2 separate regions of the Homo sapiens genome follow, and region 2 is linked to region 1. A link means that fine-mapping ties the variant in region 1 to the expression of a gene that starts in the linked region. Tissue or cell type: whole blood. Region 1 holds a variant in brackets; the other region holds the start of a gene. All regions are shown on one strand. Distances are between the middles of the regions.

Evidence for each region. PIP is the estimated chance that this variant, and not a neighbour inherited with it, causes the effect.
Region 2: PIAS1 starts here. The variant in region 1 is fine-mapped to the expression of PIAS1 in whole blood (TOPMed, PIP 0.95).

Annotation. Positions count from the first base shown.
Region 1 is chr15:68,186,141-68,194,471 of GRCh38, reverse strand. PIAS1 (protein inhibitor of activated STAT 1) reads right to left here. Exons shown (of 14, transcript NM_016166.3): 14 at 625-6,930. The coding sequence ends at 6,637. It overlaps CALML4 (calmodulin like 4), which reads left to right. Exons shown (of 5, transcript NM_033429.3): 5 at 360-3,767. The coding sequence ends at 457. It overlaps LOC105370871 (a long non-coding RNA gene), which reads left to right and starts at 6,926. Exons shown (of 2, transcript XR_932396.3): 1 at 6,926-8,331. The variant C/A (reference allele first, on the strand shown) is at 3,844.
Region 2 is chr15:68,050,060-68,058,059 of GRCh38, reverse strand. PIAS1 (protein inhibitor of activated STAT 1) reads right to left here and starts at 3,745. Exons shown (of 14, transcript NM_016166.3): 1 at 3,710-3,745. The coding sequence starts at 3,733. RefSeq lists a silencer at 3,447-3,946.

The DNA of each region.
Region 1 (8,331 bases):
GCGGAGGTTGCAGTGAGCTGAGATTGTGCCACTGCACTCCAGCCTGGGCAACAAGAGCGAAACTGTTTTAAAAAAAAAAAAAAAAAAGCACACGGTGGCATCAGTGACCGAATCCTTACCAGTACACCTCCCTACTCCCTGCCCCTGCAGAAAGCCCGATTAGCTCAAAATGGAATAAGGGTCTCAGGAGTGCAGGGATGGGTTGTCCCTTTCTGTTCACTGGTTTACTTCCTGGTCTACAGGAATAGTCAACTGCACGCTCAGGGAAGACCTTAGGGGAGCTCCAGTCCCCAAAAAACTCACTGTTTTATAATGGAACACTAAAGCCAAACTGAAAAATTAAATGTGATTTATTGCAGTGGATGATCTCTTCAGGGAAGCAGATATCGAACCCAATGGCAAAGTGAAGTATGATGAATTTATCCACAAGATCACCCTTCCTGGACGGGACTATTGAAGGAGGAGAATGGGAGAGCCTCCCCTGGGCCTGAAAACTTGGAGCAATTAATTTTTTTTAAAAAGTGTTCTTTTCACTTGGGAGAGATGGCAAACACAGTGGCAAGACAACATTACCCAACTATAGAAGAGAGGCTAACTAGCAACAATAATAGATGATTTCAGCCATGGTATGAGTAGATCTTTAATAAAAGATTTGTATTGATTTTATTAACTACCGTGAGTCCGGCCCTTTCAAGCATGGAAGGAGCCTGCGGTTTGGAGTCTGGCCTGGGTTCCAGTCCTGGCTCTGCTGCTTCCCACTGTGACTTTGGGCAAATCATTTCACTCCTCAAAGCCCCCCCACACAAGCTGGATTCCCACTTCTTACCTCATGGAGCCTGTTGAGGAAGGATTGAGCTGATGACTTAAGGGCAATCTACCAAGAGACTTATTCTGTATTTGGGGGCTAGAACCATCTTCCATATTTCCAAGATTTTCCAAGATGAAGCCAGTGCTAGCTGAGAAGCAGCAATGAACAGAAAGCTGTAACACTTATGACAACAATTCTTGCAGTGCCAGAGGCCCATTTACAAATTCTCATTTCCATCTCAACAGATATAGTGACATAGCTCAGGCTATTCATTCATAAACACAGAGTGTAGAGTGAAAACACTAGAGTGAAAACACATGCTACAATGAGGCAGCATCAGCTGAGAGCAGGAAGAGCGATCTACTTTACACCCCACACCAAAGGAAACCAGATGTGAGCTGCTAAATTGACTGGCCTTGCAGAGCTCAAGAAGGGGGCTTCCAATGCTGTGAGAATTCCGAGCTGTTCCCTGGGCTCTGTTAACAGGCAGAGAGGTTCCGGGATGGTCTGCTCAAGTGGCCCACACTGGTCATTGCCTTAAGCCACCTCCCCAGGACTTACGGAGAGAAATAAGGGGATGTAACCAGCAATGGCCAGGGTACAACAGCCCTGGAAAACAGTAGTAGGAGCACTAGGCTTTCTGGGAGTCCATCCAGCTGGAGTGGCTTTGAGTGAGTTACACAGCTAGAAGGTGCCAGGTTGGTGCTGCCAGAGATTCAGAGGTGCCATACACTTGTCAAATCTGGATCATTCGTAGTGCCAGCACAGTCCTAAAAGGGCTGGAGTACCACACCAACACAGGTAGGGGTGCAGGGCTTCAAGTACAAAGATTTGCATCCATGTATGTATCAAAAGTGGGTTCTCTGGGCTGTGGCTTTGTCTAGTAGTACCACAGTGGCTAAAGTAGAAGAAAACCAAATCAAATGGGATGTGTCTTTTGGGAGGATGTACAAGACACAAATCTTTCACTAGGCACCGGGCACAGGGAAAACTGCAGGGAACAAGAGTTGTAGTGTTAGTGCAACTGTCTCAACGATGCTGTGTGGCTTCAGACCCAAACAAGGCCCTGAGGAAGGAGACTCTCATTTCCCCAAGCATAACTGCAAGGAGAGGAGGAATTCCTAGGAGCCAAAGAGTTTTGTGGGGTGAGGGTAAATAAATGGCCCAAATGCCAACTAGGTGAAGTTGTGACCATCTGGCTGGGAAGCCCAGGTCCACACAGTGTAGGAGCAGATGTTTTGTGGGGTCTGAGGTTTACGAGATTTGGCTGCCTTAAGAATACAAAAACAGAAATGCAGAATTTCTGGGGCTGCTCCTAGGACCAGAACAAGTGAAGGGTCCTGGTGCTTAAACTTCATTACCTTCATGGTAAATCCACCAGAGGGCCGGTTAGATGCTGGCCCCGCCGAGAGAACTGCTGTCACTTTCAGGCAAAGCTCAAAGGTCCTAGGCCCACAGTTCTTTTGAGCTCCAGTCATGGACATTAGGAAGTAAATCCTGCACAGCCAACCTGGAATACCAAAGATTAGATGGGAGATAGATACCAATGATTTAGATGGCACAGGAAGAGCAAGTTCTGGATATAATAAATGAGGGTACTTTCCGTCAAAGCTTTTCTATGTCTATATTTATCACTGAATAGTCCCAGTATGGTTTTAAAGCAAGTTTTATGAATCTCATTTGCCTAACAGGAATCTGAAATATAACTTGCCAAAAACACACAGTTGGTGTGGAATGGTCATTAGAACCTGGGGCTCCTCTTCACGGACTCCCTGCTCATTAAGGGATTCAGTGGTCCAGAGTCTAAGATCCTATTAAGTGTTTGATTCAAACCTCTACCCGAGGAAGGGCTGTTACCTTACTCCTGGTCCTGGTTTCAAGCTCATTCCTGAAATTCCAGCTGGTTTCTCTAGCACCTAGTGTTGTTTACAAGAAGGCCACGGTGCTCTTAGCATTCAAACTGCAGATACTAAACAGATGCTGTGATTTATTAAAGAGTTAGCCATATTTCAACAAGAAAGGGAAATGATGGCTATATTCATTACTTACCTCAAAGCATGCTGCAAGAAAATTAGTTAGTTACTTGTCATGCTTTGAAATCTCTGGATGAAAGGTGCTTTGGAAGCACAAACCATTATCACTTGTCTCATAGGGATTGTCCCCTTGAACATCCAGCAGTGTTATTTTACAGAAGACAAATTAACTGAAGGCTTTTCTTTTATTACATCTAAAGAGCTCTACATAAACAGGTAACATTCAATAGGTAAACAATTTTTTTCCAATGCATGTAATAAATATTTTCACTTGGTACTTTTATACAAACTGACATTGTCTACTATACATTTTTAAAAGCCATTTTACTGGTTTGGCATGCGGTATGGAAATTCTAAGAGAGAAAGTTTTAAGGCAATGAATCACAGATTTAAGTTCATGGAATTTATGGTAACTTTATCTGTTTATGTACATTTTCCCCTTTGTTAAACAATTAACAGCAGCACACTCTGGGACCACCAGCTATTTTCCCTCTCTTTCTGAAATCTAAGCTTTGTATTTAATTAAAAAACAGAATTCAACATCTATTGATAAAACAAAATTCTTACTAAAATAATTTCAAATGTGCTTTAAAAAGTCCTGAAGATCTTGAAAGTTTTATGTGTTTAAAATTGAAATTGTCTAAAAAAATGCTCTTTCCACATTAATTTAGTTAGGATATATTTTCACTCCATTTCAGACACTTGACTCAAAGGAAAATCTGCCAAAGAATCCGATTTTTCAGAGCTTACGTGAATCTTTCCTCAGTAAAGATACAGAATTGTGATCATGTCTAAATAATTAGTAAAGCAATTTTAATGCTCAAAATAGTCAACCAAGTATGGCATGGTTCTGGTTCAGATTTTTTTTTTTTAAGATGTATCCAATAACACTCACGAAGTAATTAAAAGCCACTTTAACCCTGCTAGTCAAATAGCTATTTTATCAAAGATGTGTGCATACAGATGTATATATATATACACACACACACACACAGTACTGTA[C/A]AGAAACAAACATATGCATACCTACTATGAACGGCCAAGGCAAGGGGGATGATGGCAACTTGACTAGATTCTGAGAACTGCTATTTGTCCACAGATAGCATGTCAATGTTGGGATGGGTTGGGGAGTGAGCGTAGGCTAAGAAAAAAAGAGATGAAGTGACTATGTGCTTTTCTTTAAACTTAGTAGTTACAGACATAGTACAGGACTCTACTAATAATTAGTAGAGATCATGAAAGTCTGATTGATATTGACCATGAGACCAACAGAGTGACAACTATTACTTAATGCAACATTTTGGAAAGTCAACAACTGATGGAAACAAACTCCTCACAGGGTAGAACGAACTAAAATTAAGACAACTGAATGGTTAGTTTCTCCTGTGGACACATGACCAAAACCACTGAAACCACCGTATGTTTATTTCTCCCTATTACCTGTTCTTCTCTTAGGTTGGTATAATGTGGGACACTGAGGGAAATTAACCTTTTCTACAACTGAAGAAAGTAGAGGGATACGTTTTCAACTGGATCATTCAAACGGTTTGTAATTCAGCATCATACACAAAGTTACTGATCAGAATTCTGAGACCACTAACAATGACACATAAAAAAACAGGAAGAAAACTATTCATTTTACCTAAGACAGCTGAATTAGTAAAAATGTTTCCTAAAGCAATGTAAAAATCAGAAAAAACTCCCCACAATTTTAGTAATTTCTACCCCAACAGAAATTTAGACACAAATTATGGTAGTATTAGAAATTAGCCTAAATTAATACGACATTTGCTCACTATAATGCCAGATTCATTAAAAAACATTAACTGTTTCCTGGTTAACTGACAATCTGTTTTGGTTTTTTTTTTATTGCAAATTGTTTTATGACTATAACTCAGCCATTTGTGTGTGGAATACACATGCGTAGGGGAAGACTATGAAACTCACTTGTTACTCAAACACACTTGTTTATAAATACATATATACACACACACATATACATATCAACACCAACTTTTTTTTTTCCCAAAATTCAAGTCAACAATTTAGTGGCAGAGAGATGCTATAAAAACATTATTTTTAGATGCCACACAAGTCATGAGAACCATTAATTTTATCATACAACTGAAGTACAGCCATCTTGAATTCTACCTGGATTAAAGTTGATCATTTTGTTACCAATGCAAGGTTTAAAACTACAAGTGTATACACAAAGGTGGTCCTCATCAACTCTGAGAACATTAATAGTTGCGGTAGGAAAATCCAGTCTGGAAAACCAGCAGTCATTATGCCCCTTATCTCTTCTGTTAAACCTGCATTCTCAATCAACTAAAAAATATTTTCCACACCTGAGAACATCATACCTTCTCTGATGAGGATTTTGGAACATTAGTAGAACCACTTTTCCTTCCCTCCAACTCATATTTCTCTCCTGAAAAACAGTTTTCAGTATATTTACATGTTCCATTATGAATAAGAGTAGATCAGACTGATCCATGAATTCTAAAAAAAAATGACTTTCCTATGTCATACTTGTTAAAAGGTGAAGAAAAAGATAAACAAGGCAGATACGCTAAGAAAATAGGTATACTCAGAACCAAAGAGTAAAAATGACTAAGGGTCAAACACATCTTGAATTTCAACTGTTTATCAAATAGTAGACTTCTACAAAAATGTGGTGCATTGTACTTTCCAAACAATTTATTTTTAGGATAACTGACCGTGTATCTTTCTTTTTTAGGTGATGTAACATTACCTCTGTCAGCTGCACAAAACACCTGACAGAGCTTTCTAAGCTATTTTTACTTCCTACTTTGGTATGAAGATCTTACATGAAAACTTGTTACTCTGTGGCCAAAAAAAGCAGGTATTCACAGACTTGGTTTAAATACACAATACTGGCAATCCAGATTTAGAATAAAGAACTAGACTAAAGTGTATTATTCATAGGTCGGCTAAGCCTACTCCTTACCCAGACAGCTTTATTCCAATATCTCTAAAACATATTCTCAGGGGGTACAGAGCAAATAAGAGAATATGTGATGGAGAACATGCAATTGGGATAGTTGATAAAGATGCTCACACGTGAGTTCAAGACCTTCAAAGCACTTTGAAAGAAGCAAGCAACTGATTATATTAACTGAATGCACACTCGGGAGGAGAGGGAACAGTGATGACAGAAAAATACATACAGACGCACACAATGAACACACACACCCACGAGCCATGTCCTGAAAATACACAGGGAATGCAGCGGGACAGATGAGCTTTATAACTTAAGGCTGGATAAAATATGCACACACAAACAGAATCCAAGTCTGTCGTTTTCAGAAAATGGAAATCAAACTATCCCCCGACCCCCTCCCCACAACAAAGAAAAGCCCACGATTGAAAACTTCATACATGCAATTCCTTTTCTGTTATTGCAAATAAAATAATGCCATCGAAGTCAAATAAAACCAAAACCATAGGACAAATAATGAAAAATCTTCAGAATCCAGAAAAAAATGAACTGAAGGTGGTTTGTGGGTGCTTGTTTTTCTTTTTTCTTTTCTTTCCTTTTTTTTTTTAAACAAGTGTTTTATCACACAGGCAGTCTTAGATTTATATACAAAAGTAAAACTGAAAATATAGTTTTGTTCTCTGTACATTTCTTTTAATTTTTTCCCTAAAAAAAGGAAAAAAAACACGCTTGTATACTTTTCTAAACAGAGTAAGGTAAAACAGAGCACAAAGTTCTCTTCTTTCTGCCAAGTTCATTCGATCTGGGGTGGGGATGGGAGCAGCAGGGCCTGGGAATCAGTCCAATGAAATAATGTCTGGTATGATGCCAAAGATGGATGCCGTGTCCGTGCTGCTCCTGTTTGTGACGGTGTGGCTATGGCTTTCCCTTAGGCTGTTGGAAGAAACCAGGCTGCTGTTACTGCCACTACTGCTTCCATTGGTGGTTGGCAGAGAAGTACTGCCTCCTGCACTTAACTGATCAAGAAACATCTGTGAGGAGGTATACGGGAAAAACCGAGACGAGTGTAGGAGGTCTTGATCATCTGAAACTGCTGCTGCTGCAGCGGCAAGCAAGGAGGTGTTGTAATGCTAGGGAGGGGAAACAAAAGACACAAAAATGTTAATTATACTTCCAAATTAATATATTTTCTCCTCAGCGGGACACAGCCCTAAATTTAAGATAGCCTGAGTATCTAGGGTTTCTGAAATATTTACTAAGACATTTTGCAAAATCAAATGGCCTTATGTAAGGACTGGAGCATTGATCTTGAGAAGACATTTTTGTATCTGAAACTGGAGGAAAAACAAAATATAAATTTTATTGTTTTTTGTTTTAGTTTGTATTGCAAGCAATTACCAATTCTATTTCCCAAGAAGCATATGCTCAGAAGCAGCAGGAGGGGCAGACAGTCCATGCTCTTGCTAGTAAGGAGATACTTAGCCAAGAAATCTATCAGTCAATATGACTCACTGCCCTGTTTCTTTATAAAACAGTACTGGAAACCAACAGACACTGTTCTTATTATACACTCAGGCACCACTGAAAGTTAGAATTTTTATTTAAATTTTAAAGCCATAATGATAATGGGTATGATTACTCTAAGTTTTCCAAGGAAATTTATCTTTCTCTTGGCTACACATTATACTTTTAAATACAGTCATGCGTCGCTTAATGACACGGATGTGTTTTGAGAAATGCATCATTAGGCGGTTTTGTGGCTGTGCAAACATCACAGTGTGCTTGCACAAACCTAGACAGTAGAGCCTGCTACACACCTAGGCTGTGTGGTCTGGCCTACTGCTCCCAGGCTACAAACCTGTACAGCATGTTACTGTGCTGAATGCCGTAGGCAACTGTAACACAATGCTAAGTATGTGTATATCTCAACATAGAAAAGGTACAGTAAAAATATGGTATAAAAGATAAAAAAATGATACACCTGTATAGGGCACTTACCATGAATGGAGCCTGCAGTACTGGAAGTTGCTCTGGGTGAGCCAGTGAGTGAATGGTGAGTGAATGTGAGGCTTAGGACATTATTGTACACTACTGTAGACTTTATAAACACTGTACACTATGGCCACACTAAATGTGTTAAAAATATTTTTCTTTCTTCAATAATAAATTAACATTAGCTAACTAATTTTACTTTATAAACTGATTTTTTAAAACTTTGACTCTTGTAACACTTAATTTAAAACACAAGTACATTGTACAGCTGAACAAAAATATTTCCTTCTTTATATCCTTATTCTGTAAGTCTCTATTTTTAACATTTTAAAATATTTTTTACTTTTTAACTTTTTTGTTAAAAATGACACACACAACACATTAGCCTAGGCCTACACAGGGAGGTCAGGGTCATCGATGTCACTGTCTTCCATCTGCACAGCTTGTCCCACTGCATGGTCTTCAGGGAAAATAGCATGCATGGAGCTGTCATTTGCTATGACAACAATCTTCTGGAACACCCACTGAAGGACCTGCCT
Region 2 (8,000 bases), 140 kb after region 1:
AACTCAAAAGCCTCAGCAAGAACCCTGGAGCAGCATGCTGATGGAGTTCACCAGGAGACACCCAAGGTTAATCAGCTATGGACTCGCCACTAAGCACTACCGCAATCAACAGGGATTACAAGAAACTCTTTGAAGAAAAAGACAATGGGATCGCCCAGGAGAAAACGGTGGATGAAAAGAAGGAGGTATTTCAAAACAATCATATGAAATACTTAGAAACTATACGTAGTATTTTATAAACTATACTGTAGAGTTTTTAAAATACTGTTGATAAAAATAATGACATAAAACAAAAGCCATCTAAATGTGGCACTTGACAAAAGCAAGTTATAGAGATTCAAATCAAATCCATGAATAAACTATCAGATGTACTTGACTCTATCTGAAATAAAAGCAGACAAATTACAGCGTAAGGATCAAAATTAAGTAGCTATTTCTTGAAAATAAAGAGGCAGAAAATAACAATAGAATTCACTGACACACTCATAGTAACTTTTATAATTATGGTTTCTCTTCCCATTTAATTTCATTATTTACTCCACTAAAATGCTGATGGACTTCTTCTCTCCCACTCTTCTTCCTGTAAATTAAAATGGCACTATAACTTGGTTTGAGTTTTACTCCAAAAAAACACATATTTTTTTTTAAATTACTTTAAGAGGAGTTTCATGAAGCTGTCAGCTTATTAACTACCAAGATCATCTGGCCATCACACCCTCCTGCTTCTAAGTTCCTAAAGATGACAAAATACCCTCCACATTCTTAAAAATGACATTTATGGGTACTCCCCTAATGAAAAATTAAACCTTTCATAAACAAATGTGCATAGAGAATTCATTTTGATATGTATGACTCACAATCTAATTTTTATTGGCAATATCTTGAAGTGTTGCAGCTTGCACAATTCCTACAGGGGATAAAGATCTATCTGTTTTTCCCATCTGATCTTTGCACATTTCTTATAGATTTAAAAGGACTCACTAAAAAAGCCATGAGGAAAATAATTATGAATACAATCCACAGCAAAATGAAGTATGGGGCTGAAACCTAAAATAATGAAAAGTCACTGAGTTTTATGTAAAGCTTCACAGTTGAAGTACTCTATTCCCATTTAAAATTTCAAAAAATCTAGATTTTTTTCTTCTTACTCTGATTTTTCCTATCATATTAGGAATGTATGATATTTACCTCCAAAAAATCACAAACAAAAAGCCTTCAGAAAATATCATTTCCAAAAGGAGTATCTGCCAAACCTTACTGCACAGAAAATTATATATACACATTCTCTTTTTTTTAACACATTCTCAAATAACTATGGTAGGCGTTCCTGAGATCACCTCCTCCACCCCTCAAAAAAAGAACAGCAAATCTAACCACAATAAAGTATTAACCAAATTTTTTTAACGCCGCTATCACCAGCTAAGCAATTTATCACACAGCTCCTCAAAGTCTCAGACACACACAATGACATACCAACATGTCAAAACAGTTATTATAATTTGAAAAATTATACAACAGGAACATAAGAGTAGAAAAAAAAAACTTCCTCTGGAAAAACTCTAGTAGATTTGGGAGAGCACAAAAAACGAGATTAATTTTAGAAAAATAACATTTCTTCAAGTGTTTGGTGTTTATCTGATACTGGTTCATTTTCGTAAAGAGAAACTTTACCTAACAAGACTCACACCAGGGATCTGATCTATCCCCAAAGGCACTTTCTTAAAATGAGAAAGAACAAAGAAGGAAATCTCTCAGCATGTGCTTTCCATACTAGTTTCTTTGGACAGCATCAAGAGTGACAATATAGTCTGCACATGCTTTTCAGCTTTATTCTATGGTCCATGTATAACAACTGATTAGCTATCATTCAAAAGAACTCCTAACAAAATAAATATTACAAGGCAAAGATCACAGCAACATAGTGACTCTAAGAGAAAAATTATAGAAAACATGTCTTAAAGTTGTGTGCTTTTTTTTATTTCAAGGGTTAATTATCTCCAAATATTCAAATTCCTAAGGCTTTCTCATTTCAGTCAATAGTTTGAAACTGGGGAAAAATCAAAACCATCCATTGTAAATCTGCTCTCCCTTCAGTAAATTTGTAATTAGAAGTACATTTTAAAAGAATGACACTCAAAGCCAATACCTTAACATACGAATCTTGGAGTGTAAACATTGTGAAGTTATTAGGAGAAAAGCTCTTTCGGTGAGGATATTCCACAGGAAAAACTCTACAGAATCAAATCTGGCATTTGGTTGTTCTAGAAGTTGTCGTTTCATTATAACGGGGAAAAAATTAAATAATTTTTATTTATTATAAAAAGAAGACTCTCCCCAAAGATTTACAATTGTATATCCCCATCTCCTCTCTGACAGAGATGTCAGTTCTCTGGGTCGAGACATAACCAGCTGCTGGGTTCACACACACAGGAAGCCACAGAGAAGATCGCGTTCAGAGCCTCGAAATAATACGCGTTAGTTAAGAACTGCCTGCTACTAAACCAAAATTATTCAAGCGGAGCCCCATTTGTCACAATCCAGTCATAAGGGTTCCACCACCCCCTCCCCCAACTGCTTGTGTAGTGGTATATCTGCTACGGTAAAGAAGCCATCATCAGGTAAAGATTGGGGTGGGAGAAAAGCGGGGAAAAGGGGGCACCCTTTCATCTAATTTCGTGAGGCGTGAGTAATTGGTACTGTTAAGAGGAACGTTCTATTTATCGGGGGTTGGAGTAGCATGAGGGGAGAATTTCGTTCAAATCAACATGGCCAGCAAGATGTCCCTACAAACAAAAGGCAATGGGGGGATATAAACACGAACCATTCACCTCCATCAGCTACAGCATCGCCATCATGGTGTGTGCAGAGACCCCCAAAGGCTCCTCTCACCCTCCACACCAGCTAAGGCAAAAGAAGGGAGAGAGGTAGCTGCATCCCCCCCTCCCAACACTGCTTCCAAAGACACACTCTTCGAGGGGGTTTCTCCCCTCGGCTGCCCGGAATCAGAGAGAAAGAGTAACGTCCCGCTCACTACCTCTCAGCCGAACCCCAACGCCGGCCCGGGGCTCGCTAAACTTTACCAGAGCTTCTCCCCCAGATCCCCACCCTATCGCCCCGGGATCGCGCTTCCCACAAGCGGGGCACCCCAGGCGCTTCCTGACAAGCGAGCAGCCGGGGAAAGCCGAGTCCGGGGCGGGGGCTACTGGGATCCACGGAGGGGCGGGGCGGCCGAAGCCAAGTTCCCGGGGGTCTGAGAAGAGCGCCTGACAGGAGCCCGGGACTGCAAAGGAGGAAGAGGAAGCGGCCACGGGGAGCTTTCCCAATCCCCCCTACGAGAGCACCCTGCCCCCAGCCCCAGCTCCCCATGGGGGGCAGGGAGGCTAACTGGAAGGTGAAAAAGCCGAGCCCATGAGACAGCTGCAGCCCCTACCTCCGGACTCCCTATCTCTTCCCCCGCCACCCCCGCCAGAGGCGCCCACAACAATAACACGCCGGGGACGACCCGTCAGCGCCCCCGAGGCACCCGGGGCCCGCGGCCCGCCGCAGGCGGGCCCCCTCTGCTGAGACCGGGCGCGCCTCTCTCCCTACAACTCCAGGCCCGGGTGGAGTCAGGCCCGAGAGGCCCCCCAGGGTCGGACCCATCCCCCCTGGCAGCAGCGGCGCCGTCTCCGCGGCCGAATATTAGAAGTGAATTCGAGCTGCGCTTTACCTTTAGTTCCGCACTGTCCGCCATCTTGCGTCTGTCAGCGCAAGCGCAGTGAACTTCGCCGGGGGCCGCCGCTAGACCCGCCCCTCTAGCCGGCCTGGCCCCGCCCCGGCCCGCCCCTCCACCTTCCCAGCCCGCCTCTAGCCTCCGCCCCGCTCAGGGCGCTCGAAGCCCCGCCCCGGGCACGTACAGCTGCGAGACAGGCACGTTCCATTTAAATAATGGCGCCAAGCGGCGAGGTTTGACAGTTACTGCCCCCTCGGTCTCCCTGCCCCCCATCCTAGCTCGGCCAGCTCCTCCCGGGAAGGGCCGGAGCGAGAGGGATGCTGGCCTGAGCCCCATCTCTCTGCGGTCCGCGGAACGCTTCTGCATAGCTTCGACGCCTACGGTCACAGAAACAATGCTGTCCCCCAACCCCCAATAAGCAAGGCTTTTTCAGCACCTGCTACCTGCGAGGCTACCAGTGGGCTAAAAATAGAAATCCATTACATTTAAGGGGCCCTTAATGAAGCATTTCTATCATTATTGGCTCAGATCCTCTTGATAACGAGGGGAGGTAGGCAAGGAAGAGATAATTCCCATGGTATAGATTCAGAAATGAAAGCTCAGAGAGGAAAAGTGACTTGCACAAACAAGTATTTTAACGAGGTGGCGTAAGACAAAATTTTGAAGGTGTTCATTAACATTTTTGTTTAAAAAAGTATTTATTTAGTGACCATCTGCTTGCCTTGTGCTAACGGCTAAATATACATTTTGAAATCAAAGTCCGTGCCCTTCTGTAGTTCTCTAATGGGGAATCAGAGAAGTGAACGAACAAAGATACAATTGCAAATGTTAGTGAGTACCAGAAAGGAGCAAAAGGTCATTGAGAGAGAGAAAGGGTTTGGGAGATGTACTTAATTCTGGGAGGGTTTTATCCACTAAATTGACATTTAAGTAGACTTGATGGAAGGATTATTTCATTCCTTTTCGTCTCTACTGAAAGCCTTCTATATACCTCCTCCCCAACCCCCACTTTTACTAATCAACTTTGCCTCATAACTCATGGAAAAAATGAAAGATATCAGAAATAAACTCCCTTATCTTCTCACCATCAAAACCACCCTTATCTGCATAGTAACATTTGGGTTGCTATGAATGAAGTGTCCCTGCGCCTAGGAAGGCCAGTCCCTTTACCAGTGACCGGATTTTTTTCACGCACATTCCTAAGGATTTTACTCTTACAATTACCTACCCTCCAGCATCGTTAGTTTTTTCCCTCTCAATTGAATTGCTCCTATCAGCATATAAATATATTGAAATTTCTCCCATCTAAAATAAACTTCCTTTGACTCCAAAATCGCCTCTAGGAACTGCCCTATTTTTCTGCTATCTTCATAAATTCTTAGAAAGGTTTTTCAAGATCTCTCCAATAGTGCTTGTTCCTACCTCTCACTTCACATTCACTTCTCAGTCTACCCTGATCGAGCTTTGGCTTCCATCATCTGTATCACTTATCAAGATTACTAATGATCTTGTTTCCAAAGGCAATTGCCAATTCTCTATCCATATCTCAATTGACCTCTCTGTAGAATCGCGAATAATTGACATGGTTCCTTTGATTTGAAACACTTTTCCCCCTGAACTTACCTACACGTCACAGATAGTCCTGTTCCCTCACTGGGCCTCCTTTTTGATATGCTGGTTTCTCCTCTTTGGCTCAATCTTTAAATGTTGGACTGCTCCAGGGCTCGGTCCTTGCATTCTTCTCTATTTTATCACCAGGTGATCTCATCTAACTGGTTGACTTGAAGTCTATATGCTCATGACTTTGAAAATGCTCTCTAGCCTAAACCTCTCCATTGTCAAGAAACAAAAGTAAAACAAATTGAGATTCAAGATCTCATTGGCATTATTGCACTCCTAGAATTGGACAAAACTTCATTCCACAAAATAGAATAAATGTTGCAATGAATCAAGCAGAGGATGTTAACTTTAGAGACAGAAAATAGACTGAAGAAGGCAGAAACAACAAAAAGCAGATTGGTTATATCAAAGTCACTTTTCTTTAAGGTGGAGACGTGGAGACAGAACAGTAGAAAGAAAACTGATTGGTTAACATTGGGTTACTTCAGGTATTCTATTTTAAGGATTAAAACAGGAAATTTCATTATCATGCCTGTTAAAGATTGAAACTTCTGTTTGGAAAATTGGCTATCTCTCTTACCATTTTTTGGAAAACCAGATAACTCAGTTTTGTTTTGGTGAACATGGGTGACACCATTTTGATTTTTAGTCTGATCTGGAGGCCTGATGCAGGAATTTGGTTGAAAACAATGGCATCCCATGATTTTTATTTAACAACCTAGGTGAAATTGTGACTAAGACTGAGGGCATTAGCACTACCCTCATTTAACATCATTCTGTGTTTCCAGTCTCAACACATCATTTATAGATTACAGTGTCCTCATGATTTTGTATTTCTGTCATTGCAGCTGAAGAGAGACCATATGACATTCAACAATTGGCTGTATGCAAATATGTAAAACTTTTTGAGAGAACATAATTGAGAATTGTGACTATCAGGAGGACAATGCCAAGAGTTCGGAGTATGCTTCTTAGCTAGGGTTGCCATAAACCAAACCAACTAAAATCAAATAGATCAAAGAATGAGCCAGATGAGAAATCTACCTGTTTTCACCAAGTAGCCTGCTAACTTTTTGAAACTGAGTCTCTACAATACCAGATTATTTATGTACAACAAGAAGTGACAGCAACAGCACAGATTTCCCCGTTTGGTTAGTACGCAGCAATTCTATCATCTAGCATCTCAGAAATGGGTTAAATTAAAGCAAAGAGTGCTAACTCTACAAAAGAGGCCACTAGTAAAATTTGAACAAACAGTTGCATTAGGGATGTTGCTAAAGTTACCCACTAGGTGGAATAAAAGCTCTCTTGGGTCCTGTAAATGTTTGGGTTTGACCCTTTATCAACTTACCCACAAAAACTACTAATTGTGAAATTTTAACTACAGCATTATCCTGCCAAGTGGAAGAGGTGGGCATAAGCAAGAAAAAATTAAGAAGGGAAGGAGTCTTATCATGGTAGCGAGTCTTATTCTGACAGTCTTGGAAAACGCTGTCCACAACATGATGTCAGCAATTTCTCATCCTGGTTTGCAGTTTAAATGTCTCTGGCTGTGGCATCAGGTGTTCTGCTAAACTCTCTATGTGGCTCCCTCATCAAGCATGGGACTTGTCCCTTGAAATTTATATCGAGTTGTTCAGCTTAGCAGTTTTTGTTCATGGTTGGAGAATTGCAGTCAGATATTGAAGGCAACAAGAACTCAGGATCCAGGCTAGTCTATAGATAGATGATAAAAACTCAAAAACAATGAACAAAGCTGCAATCTAGTAACAGGTGTACTATGGTTTTCTTCAGAAACATAATTTTTCTCTCTACAGTCATTCCCATTTCTACCAAAGATAATCATGGTAAGACCAATTTATTTTTAAAATTAATTTAGTTTCAAACTTGACCTGATTATTTACATAAGTGCGGCAAGAATAACCACATAGGCTTCTTTTAAATTTATTTTGCTGGAAATTGTGACAACAAATCTGGACTTTTAAAAACCTCTTGATGTTAGGAAGTCAAACCAAGGCAGACATCAGACTTTGCCTGCAATATCTAATATCTTGAGGCTTCTGGGCCTGCCTGGAAGTGACTACTTTTATTCACTATAAAGCTGAGAACACTTGAAAATTGGCATTCTATGATTCCATGCACATTTTAAAATATGACATTGCTATATATATATATATTCATATATATATTCATATATATGAATATATATATGAATATATATATTCATATATATGTATATATATGAATATATATGTATATATATATGAATATATATATATACGTATATATATATATGATATGGTTTGGGTCTGTGTCCCCAACCAAATGTCACCTTGAATTGTAATAATCCCCAAGTGTCAAGGGCAGGACTAGGTGGATATAATTGAATCGGCATCAATTCAATTGATAATGAATGAATGAAGGAACAGCACTGGCAGTGGGGTGGGAGGGAATTCCGCCATGCTGTGCTTGTAATAGTGAGTTCTCACGAGATCTGATGGTTTTATAAGGGGCTTCCCCCTTTGCTCGGCAACCATTCTCTCTCCTGCCACCCCGTGAAGAGGTACCTTCCACCATGATTGTAAGTTTCCTGAGGCATTCCCAGTCATGTGGAACTGTGAGTCAATTAAACCTCTTTTCTTTATAAATTACCCAGTCTCAGGTATGT